2 separate regions of the Homo sapiens genome follow, and region 2 is linked to region 1. The links come from fine-mapping of genetic effects on gene expression. A gene starts in region 1. The other region holds a variant in brackets. All regions are shown on one strand. Distances are from middle to middle. Region 1 holds the start of MAML1 (mastermind like transcriptional coactivator 1). Region 2 overlaps MAML1 (mastermind like transcriptional coactivator 1).

Region 1 (4,242 bases):
ACTGAATTTCTTCATAGTAACCTTCAGTGTGTGTGTGTGACTATGTTCAATTAGTGGGTTGATCTTCGTATAATTGGCCACTATGTGAGAGTTCACTACTAGGCAGAAACTATTATGGACAGTGAAATAATGACTTTTATCTCACCACGTGAGTTTGATGCAGTCTTTTCTGTCTAGCCCTTGCCTCTTCCTGCCCATGTGATTGCGGTGCAGTAGTTTCTGTTGTATAATAGTGTGGACAGCAGCTCAGAAAAGGAGGGAATGCTACTGATAATTTGTAGATAATATTCTTTAAGACTTAGGGGAACCATTGAACTTTGAAATTTTTATTAGAAAATTATTTGTTCAGAATCAGACTCCATTATTTTACATATACTTAAATACTTTAGGGGTATTTTTGAAAGTTAGCCCAGTTTTTTATGTGCTATTAAATTTTTAGATTACATACTAAAGAAAAGTATGTACACAGAATGTAGTGCTCCTAGTTACTATTTTTTCTATTAAGAAATAGTTTAGTTCTGGTGTAAAATTTGTTTGAATGCTAAAAAAAAAAAAGCAGGACTGCATTATGGCACTTTTGCCTTGGTGGCCCACTTTCTCCATTTAAAACATTAGGATTTGTATTTTTCTGCTGCGTTTGTATGAAGACATATTTGATTGTTGTTTTCTCTTGATTTTAAAATAAAACCTCATGAGCCCTAGTAAAAAGCTAGAGTAACGAATGTTTGAACTACTGATGGTGTATCTCAATGTGCAGCCTCCTGCCACCTCCTGCTTAACCTTTTAGCAATTAGAGTGCCCATATCTAGAGTTCCTGATATCCTTTGGCATCACACTATCTAGTTTTAGTACTAACACTGTTTGATTGCTCCAGTCCCTCTACTCCCCTTTGCCTATTAGTTTTAATAATGGGGCATAATTTGTCTTGGTTTGGTTTTGTTGAGTAACTCAGTTTTACCTAAAGGACTGTTTTTGGTCCGGCGCGGCGGCTCACGCCTGTAATCGCGGTACTTTGGCAGGCCGAGGTGGGCGGATCACCTGAGGTCAGGAGTGGGAGACCAGCCTGACCGACATGGAGACACCCCGTCTCTACTAAAAATACAAAATTAGCCGCGCGTGGTGGCGCATGCCTGTAATCCCAGCTACTGGAGAGGCTGAGGCAGGAGAATCGCTTGAGCCTGGAAGGCGGTGGTTGTGGTGAAACGTCGTCCTTTGCATTTCCAGTTCCCTCTAATGGAGCTGCACTCTTGCATGCTTTTGCTCACATCTTCTGGACTTTTTTTTTAAGTAGTGAGTAATACTGCACTTTTGAAACTTGCTCGGGCTTTTACAAATAGGTGGAAACTACCAGTGATTCGGAATGTTGCAAGAGGAAACTACCAGCTCACTAGACGATTCTGACCAATTATGGGGCTGGATACAAGGAATAAGGTCAAAGTAAAACGGCTGACATTAAAATAGCGTGGCTACTTAGAGTTTATCAAAGTCGAAATTTAAAAAATAATTTAAAAAAAAGGTCTCTGTACTGCCAGGCGGGCGACAGGGACTGGCCAGCTGCGCCGCACTCGCCTGCCAGATTCCCCTTTTCTCGGGGTAGCCGGAAGGGCCTGCCTTCAGCGGGTGCTGTGCAGGAAACCAATAGCCGCCTCTTGGACGGGCTCCTGTCAGTCACGCTTAGCTCCGCCCCCAGGATTAAGGCCCGCCCAGGGGCTTCCCTCCGCCCTTCGCTTGAGAATTCCTTTTAAATACCGCTCTGGCGCCCGAGCGCGCCTCTTGCGTGCTCGTCCCCACGCCCTCGGGCGGCCGGTTCTTCCTTCTCTGATTGGCCAGGGCCCCTGCTCATCAGTCGTGATGCACAAGGTCTCTTACCGAGGCCCCGCCTTCTTCCGAGAGGCCCGAAAACAATTTTAAGATGGCGGCCGCGGCGGTAGCGCGGAAAACAATGGGGCCGGGGCGGTGGGGAGAGGCCGAGGCTTGAGGTAGGCAGCAAGCGCCGGCTGGGGGTCGGGCCGAGCGGGGCAGGAGGAAAACCCGCCGCCGCGCGCGAGCCCGCTCCGCTGCCCTCGGGGGCATGGCGCGGCCGTGAGGCGGAGAGGGGTAGCCGCGGGGAGCGAAGCCCGCAGTGCCAGCCGGCCCCGAGAGGCCCGGCCCCGGGCCCGGCCCGTGCAGCCCGCGGCCCATGGTGCTGCCCACCTGCCCCATGGCGGAGTTCGCGCTGCCGCGGCACAGCGCGGTCATGGAGCGCCTTCGCCGGCGCATCGAGCTGTGCCGGCGCCACCACAGCACCTGCGAGGCCCGCTACGAGGCCGTGTCGCCCGAGCGCCTGGAGCTGGAGCGCCAACACACCTTCGCCCTGCACCAGCGCTGCATCCAGGCCAAGGCCAAGCGCGCCGGGAAGCACAGGCAGCCGCCCGCCGCCACGGCCCCGGCGCCCGCCGCCCCGGCCCCGCGCCTGGACGCCGCTGACGGCCCCGAGCACGGCCGCCCGGCCACGGTGAGTAGGGCGCGGGAAGGCGCTTGTCGTGGCGGCAGCCCCCTCTCCCGAAAACGCTTCCTCTGACGCGGATCGGGCCGCTGGGAGACTTCCCCAGGCGTCCGCGACTCCTGGATCTGGCTGGAGAGAGGGTAACATGGCAGGGAGCTGAGAGGTTGTCATCTTTGGGAAGTGGCACGGTGGCGTTACTTTGGGAAAACAGCGCCTTGAGGGCCTTGCAGGAGGCCCGACCTGGGAAGGCTGGCGAACGCTAACCGGAGGGTTTTTCTTCCAGACTTGATTCCGGGATGTTGAGATCTTTATTCGAAATAGACTAGCATTCGAGTCGCCTGTGATGGAGGGAGTTCCTGCACCGTAGGCCTGGCCTCATTTATTCTGCAAATGTTTATTGGGTCCTTGCCCTTTACAAGATCCTGTGCTGTGAGCAGGATCAGGGCTTTCATGTGGAAATAAGTCGGCCTTTGGTTGACCAACTGAAACTCCTCTGAATGGAAAATCAAGAAATTTTTGGAAAACTTAGTAAAATGTTCAATGAGTTGCATATAAGTATTCCTTGTTTAGGTAGCCTGAACTTTGTGAACTTGAGATTCCTGCAATATTGTTGACAATTCTAGTTTTAATTTATCAGGCCTGTTTAAAATCTCTGATGATGTTAGATTGTTGGTCAATTATTACTCCCTTTGGGCTCTCAGTAAATGTTCCTGAAATTTGTTGGTTAGAGGTTTTTCTTCCTGAAACAGATTTACAAAAGAGACAAGGTTTTTCAGTGGTTTTCTTGGGGATTTTAGTTTAAAACCAATGTTAAAATCTAATTTGTTATGTGTATTTTTAAATTCATACCTTTATTATCTCTCACCTGGGCTATTGCAGTGCCTGTCCCTAGCTAACTAACCAGTCTGTAGGCATTTAGTTTCTTTCTCCCTTATTCTCGAAATGCTGGAAATCCTTCTCTTGCTTGAAAGGATGAAGTTCAAAGTCTTTAGTTTGGCATTTGGGACCAGTCTGACCTAACCTATCTTTTAATGTCCCTCACAGGTCCTCTGCTCTGGTTGAATTATTTTTCTCATTCTCTTCCACACTAGCCTCGATTGCTGGGTTAGAAGAAAAAAAACCACTCAGATTTCATTGCTTATTGTATCAACTGGTCAAGCCTTCTCATCTTCACTTTTCTCATCTGTAAACTAGGGGCATGTTGGGCTTATTATCGCCCCGTGTTCTTTCCCTGCCCTCCCCTCACTCTGTCGCCCAGGCTGGAGTGCAGAGGCACAGTCATGTCTCACTGCAGCCTCAACCTTCCTGGCTCAAGACTCCTCAATCCTCCCGCCTCAGCCTCCTCAGTCCTCCCGCCTCAGCCTCCTGAGTAACTGGGATCAACCACAGCTGCACATCACCATGCCTGGCTAAATAAAAAAAGTTTTTTTTCTGTTAGAGATGGGGTCTCACTATATTGCCTAGGCTGGTCTTGAACTCCTGGGCTCAAGTGATCCTTTCTTCCAACTTGATCTCTGAAAGTGCTGAGATTATAGGCATGAGCCACCGCACCGTGCCGCCCCCAGGATTCTTTTAAGAATAAAAAGAAATGAGTGTGGACATGAAAATACAGTATTTCGGGGGAAGGGATAGCATTGGGAGATATACCTAATGCTAGATGACGAGTTAGTGGGTGCAGCGCACCAGCATGGCACATGTATACGTATGTAACTAACCTGCACATTGTACACATGTACCCTAAAACTTAAAGTATGATA
Region 2 (4,259 bases), 31 kb after region 1:
CTGTAATCCCCGCTGCTCGAGAGACTGAGGCAGGAGAGTCACTTGAACCTGGGAGGCAGAGGTTGCAGTGAGCCGAGATTGCACCATTGCACTCCAGCCTGGGCAACAAGAGTGAAACTCCGTCTCAATAATAATAATAAAGATGAATTATTAAGTGGCAGATGATAAGAGGGAGAGGAAGGGAGTGCAGGGAGAGAGGGAAAGGAAGGACTGAAAATATGGCCTATGTGTAACAGTAGGAAGATCATTGCTGGCCTTGGAGAAAGCAGTTCTCAACTCCTCCCTTCCTTTTCCCCACATCCCATTGATTTCCAGATTGGCCAGGAATGTAATCCATATTGCCATAGATCAAGGTGCTGGCTCTAAGGGGTGGGAACTGGTGGAGTTTGGCTGACAGGAAGATGATAGAAGAGGTAAAAAAGAGGAGGCAGGAGGAAAAGCAAATTTCCTGATGAGTAGGGCTAGAAAGGGGCATTGGCTGCCAGTGTGTAAGGAGCACTCATGAAAGAACCACGCGTGTCTTCAGCAGCTGTGTCTGTCAGCTCAGAGTGGAAGCATGTAGGTATTGTCATTTTTTGGTGAGTTTGGCCACAAAGCATTCTGGGAGTGCAGCGGTGGGTGGTTGAAGAAGGAGGAAGTGGAGATAGGCAAAGGATTATCCTTCCTATAAGGCTAGTGCATGGTGGGTGAGAGACTGACAGGATGCTGCTTAGGAGTCCAAAAGGTGTGGCCAGCTCCAGCTTGATTCAGAGCAGTGGTGGTATCCTGGAGCTCCTCTCCCAGAGCAGAGGATGGCAGGTGGCGCCTGGAGAGTGTGGCCTCCCAGCGAGGGAGCTGGCACAGGCTAGGATGGGACTTAGGTCAGCGGGGTGTCTTGGTGGAAGGCTGAGCACACGTGGTTCTCCAGCCGACCACGAGCATCTGATCATATTATCTCCCAGGACTGGGTCCTCCTGGAACCCTGTACACTGCAGAAACTCTTCAGTAGTTACAACAGGAACCTTTGAGCTGAGCACCCAGAAGTACCAGATGTGCTGGAGCAGGCTCCTGTATTTATACGTGGCAGCCAGTCTAGTATTGCTTTATAGCACCTTCTGTGTCTGTTCTTACATAACTTTTAATCTGTTCAGGCTGTTTGCCCATCTCTATTGTGATTCTTTGAGTTCAGGCTCCAAGGCTCACTCATCCTTGCCCTGCATATCAGACACTCCTGCAAATGCTCAGGGCTTAAAAATCTGCCGGGGCCACCACATTACACACTCCTATCCCCGTCTACGTTATTCCAGTTAAATTTTGTGAGTAGTTGACAAAATGCCCTACTGTTTCCTTTGGTTAAAAGCAATAGGTATTACAAAATTCAGTTGTTACATTGGAACTTGTCTGCAGCTGTTTGCATGTGAATATTGAATGAGGGAGTGGTAGCTTTTGTAATTGTTAGGGCAAAGAAAGATTCTGTTTCTAATCTGAGACAACCAGCTGACTCATCAAGTGCCTTGACCCTTTAGATTTCCATCTTTCTTTTTCCCCTAGGAAGATGGAAAACTGAGCTCCCAGGTTTACAGATAGCCCAGACCTGGCACTGTGGAACAAAAGAAAATGGTAGAAAAGATGAAAATCAAGGAAATGTTAGCAACTAATTTTTATTTCCTCTGACCATTTAAATGGGTATGAATTTACCTTCCACAAGGAAAACTTTTCAAATAATGGCTTTTTATAAAGGGTCTATTTTATGTGCGTGGTTCCCTTCCACCCCTAGGTGGCAGGAGAAAGCAGAAGAACCTGCATGAAAGTAAAGCAAACGTCCTGCAGCTGTGGGGCGGTGTTCTGAATCCTAGGATTGTTGCTTACCTCTGCCCTGCAGTTCCATTTGTCAGGCATTCCTGCG[AT/A]TTTTTTTTTTTTTCAGACCGACTTAGTTACCCATATATGGATTTTTAAAAATACTGACTTGGCTAGGATTTATAGAGCACTGTGTAGTCAGCTTTAACAGTTAAGAAATAAGCAAATCTTGATGTGGGGAAAAGAAGAACAGGAACATTAGAATTGGGGATTAGAGGTTGAGAAAATGGTCCTCCCTGGTGTCCAGTGGGTAATCTGCTGTTGAGAACTGATGCCCGTGGAGTTGCCCCAGGCAGGACGCCCAGGCCAGGGCACTTCACCTGGGCCCCTGGGGTTGGTGTGGAGAGTCAGGTGGCCTTTCTCTGCAGCCGGAGAAGCTAGCACAGGGGGCTCCCCGTCTCCTCTGAATCCTGTCTAAAGATAATAATGAGGGCTGTTACTTGGAACATTTTCTAATAACATGCTATAGATGCTTAGGGTTTATGGGAAGGGGGGATGGTACTGGGGGTGGGGGATAAAGGACAAAAACGTAATAAAGTAAACACAGGAAAGGAGCAGCATGTGTTTGGAAGCTGAGCATAGGCACTCCCTCTGAGCAGTGGAGTTGAGTCCTGACTGCAGCACATGCAGGTGAGGAAGCAGTAGAAGGAGTCCGTCTTCTGTCCCCTTCCCATCCCTTCTGACATGTTCTTATCTTGAAATCGCCGCCCCTGAACTCCCAGGGTACTTACTGTGTGCTGCTCTCACTCTGTAGCCCTGTCTGTGTATGTCCCATGTCCTGAAAGCCCACCCGAGGAGGAGCTGTCTTCTTTGTCTTTATGTTCCCCACAGCACTTGTCTCTGGCACAAGGCAGAATCTTAATAACTTCAGTGGCATGAATCCATCGAGGAGCAGATGGGAAGCAGAGTCACAGTGTCACACCAGACAGATTATGTTCAAGCAAATAGTCCCAATAAGAAGTAGTGAGGGGCCGGCCGGGCGCAGTGGCTCACACCTGTAATCCCAGCCCTTTGGGAGACTGAGGTGGGCAAATCACCTGAGGTCTGGAGTTCAAGACCAGTCTGACCAACATGGAGAAACCCCGTCTCTACTAAAAATACAAAATTAGCTGGGCATGGTGGCACATGCCTGTAATCCCAGCTACTCTGGAGGCTGAGGCAGGAGAATGGCTTGAACCCTGGAGGCGGAGGTTGCTGTGAGCCAAGATCACGCCATTGCACTCCAGCCTGGGCAACAAGAGCGAAACTCTGTCTCAAAAAAAAAAAAAGTGAGGGGCTGGGCACAGTGGCTCATGCCTGTAATCCCAGCACTTTGGGAGGCTGAGACGGGTGAATCACTTGAGGCCAGGAGTTTGTGACCAGCCTGGCCAACATGGTGAAACCCCGTCCCTACCAAAAAATACCGGAAGTTAGCCAGGCACAGTGGTGCACATCTGTAATCCCAGCTACTTGGGAGGTTGAGGCATGAGAATTGATTGAACTCAGGAGACGGAGGTTGCAGTTAGCTGAGATTGTGCCACCGCACTCCACCCAGCCTGGCGGCAGAGCAAGGCTCCATCTCAAAACATATATATATATATAATATATATATGTGTGTGTGTGTGTGTGTGTGTGTACTCTCTGGCATTTTTTTGTTGGCTCCATTCTTGGGCATACCGCCAGACGAGATGGCTGTGGGCAGCCTCATGCCTGTCTCCTGCAGAAAGAGGACTGCAGAAGCACTTTAGCTAGACATCAGTTCTGACTGGCCAGGTATAGGACCGTCAGGGAAAATGGAGGTGTGTCCCCAGAAATGGGAGTGTACACTATGCAAGCAGAACCCACTGGCGAGCATTGCAGGGACATCAGCCCTTGGCTTGTTACTGTCATAGCAGAGCAAATTCATATGTATCTTAAGTCATTCTTTTCAATGTTTTTCAGCATCTTCATGATACAGTTAAGAGGAATCTTGACAGCGCCACTTCCCCTCAGAATGGCGATCAACAGAATGGCTACGGGGACCTCTTTCCTGGGCATAAGAAGACTCGCCGGGAGGCCCCTCTGGGAGTTGCCATCTCTTCCAATGGACTGCCTCCAGCCTCCCCCCTCGGTCAGTCTGACAAGCCTTCTGGAGCCGACGCCCTGCAGTCCAGTGGGAAGCACTCTCTGGGGCTAGACTCTCTCAACAAAAAGCGTCTGGCTGACTCCAGCCTTCACTTGAATGGAGGCAGTAACCCCAGTGAGTCATTTCCTCTGAGCCTGAATAAAGAACTGAAGCAGGAGCCTGTCGAAGACCTGCCTTGCATGATCACTGGGACTGTCGGCTCCATATCGCAAAGCAACCTCATGCCAGACCTCAACCTTAACGAGCAGGAGTGGAAGGAGCTCATCGAGGAGCTGAACAGGTCGGTGCCCGATGAAGACATGAAGGACCTGTTTAATGA

Evidence for each region. PIP is the estimated chance that this variant, and not a neighbour inherited with it, causes the effect. A credible set is the group of variants that fine-mapping cannot tell apart.
Region 2: its variant is the best candidate, but not a certain one, in a credible set for the expression of MAML1 in whole blood (INTERVAL, PIP 0.78).

The regions. Positions count from the first base shown.
Region 1 is chr5:179,730,934-179,735,175 of GRCh38, forward strand. MAML1 (mastermind like transcriptional coactivator 1) reads left to right here and starts at 1,889. Exons shown (of 5, transcript NM_014757.5): 1 at 1,889-2,494. The coding sequence starts at 2,180. CANX (calnexin) reads left to right here. Exons shown (of 15, transcript NM_001746.4): 15 at 1-708. RefSeq lists enhancers at 1,432-1,531, 2,293-2,793 and silencers at 1,982-2,181, 2,422-2,481.
Region 2 is chr5:179,761,570-179,765,828 of GRCh38, forward strand. MAML1 (mastermind like transcriptional coactivator 1) reads left to right here. Exons shown (of 5, transcript NM_014757.5): 2 at 3,757-4,259. Among named protein-coding and RNA genes, the nearest start is that of LTC4S, 30 kb to the right of the region's middle. The variant AT/A (reference allele first, on the strand shown) is at 1,886.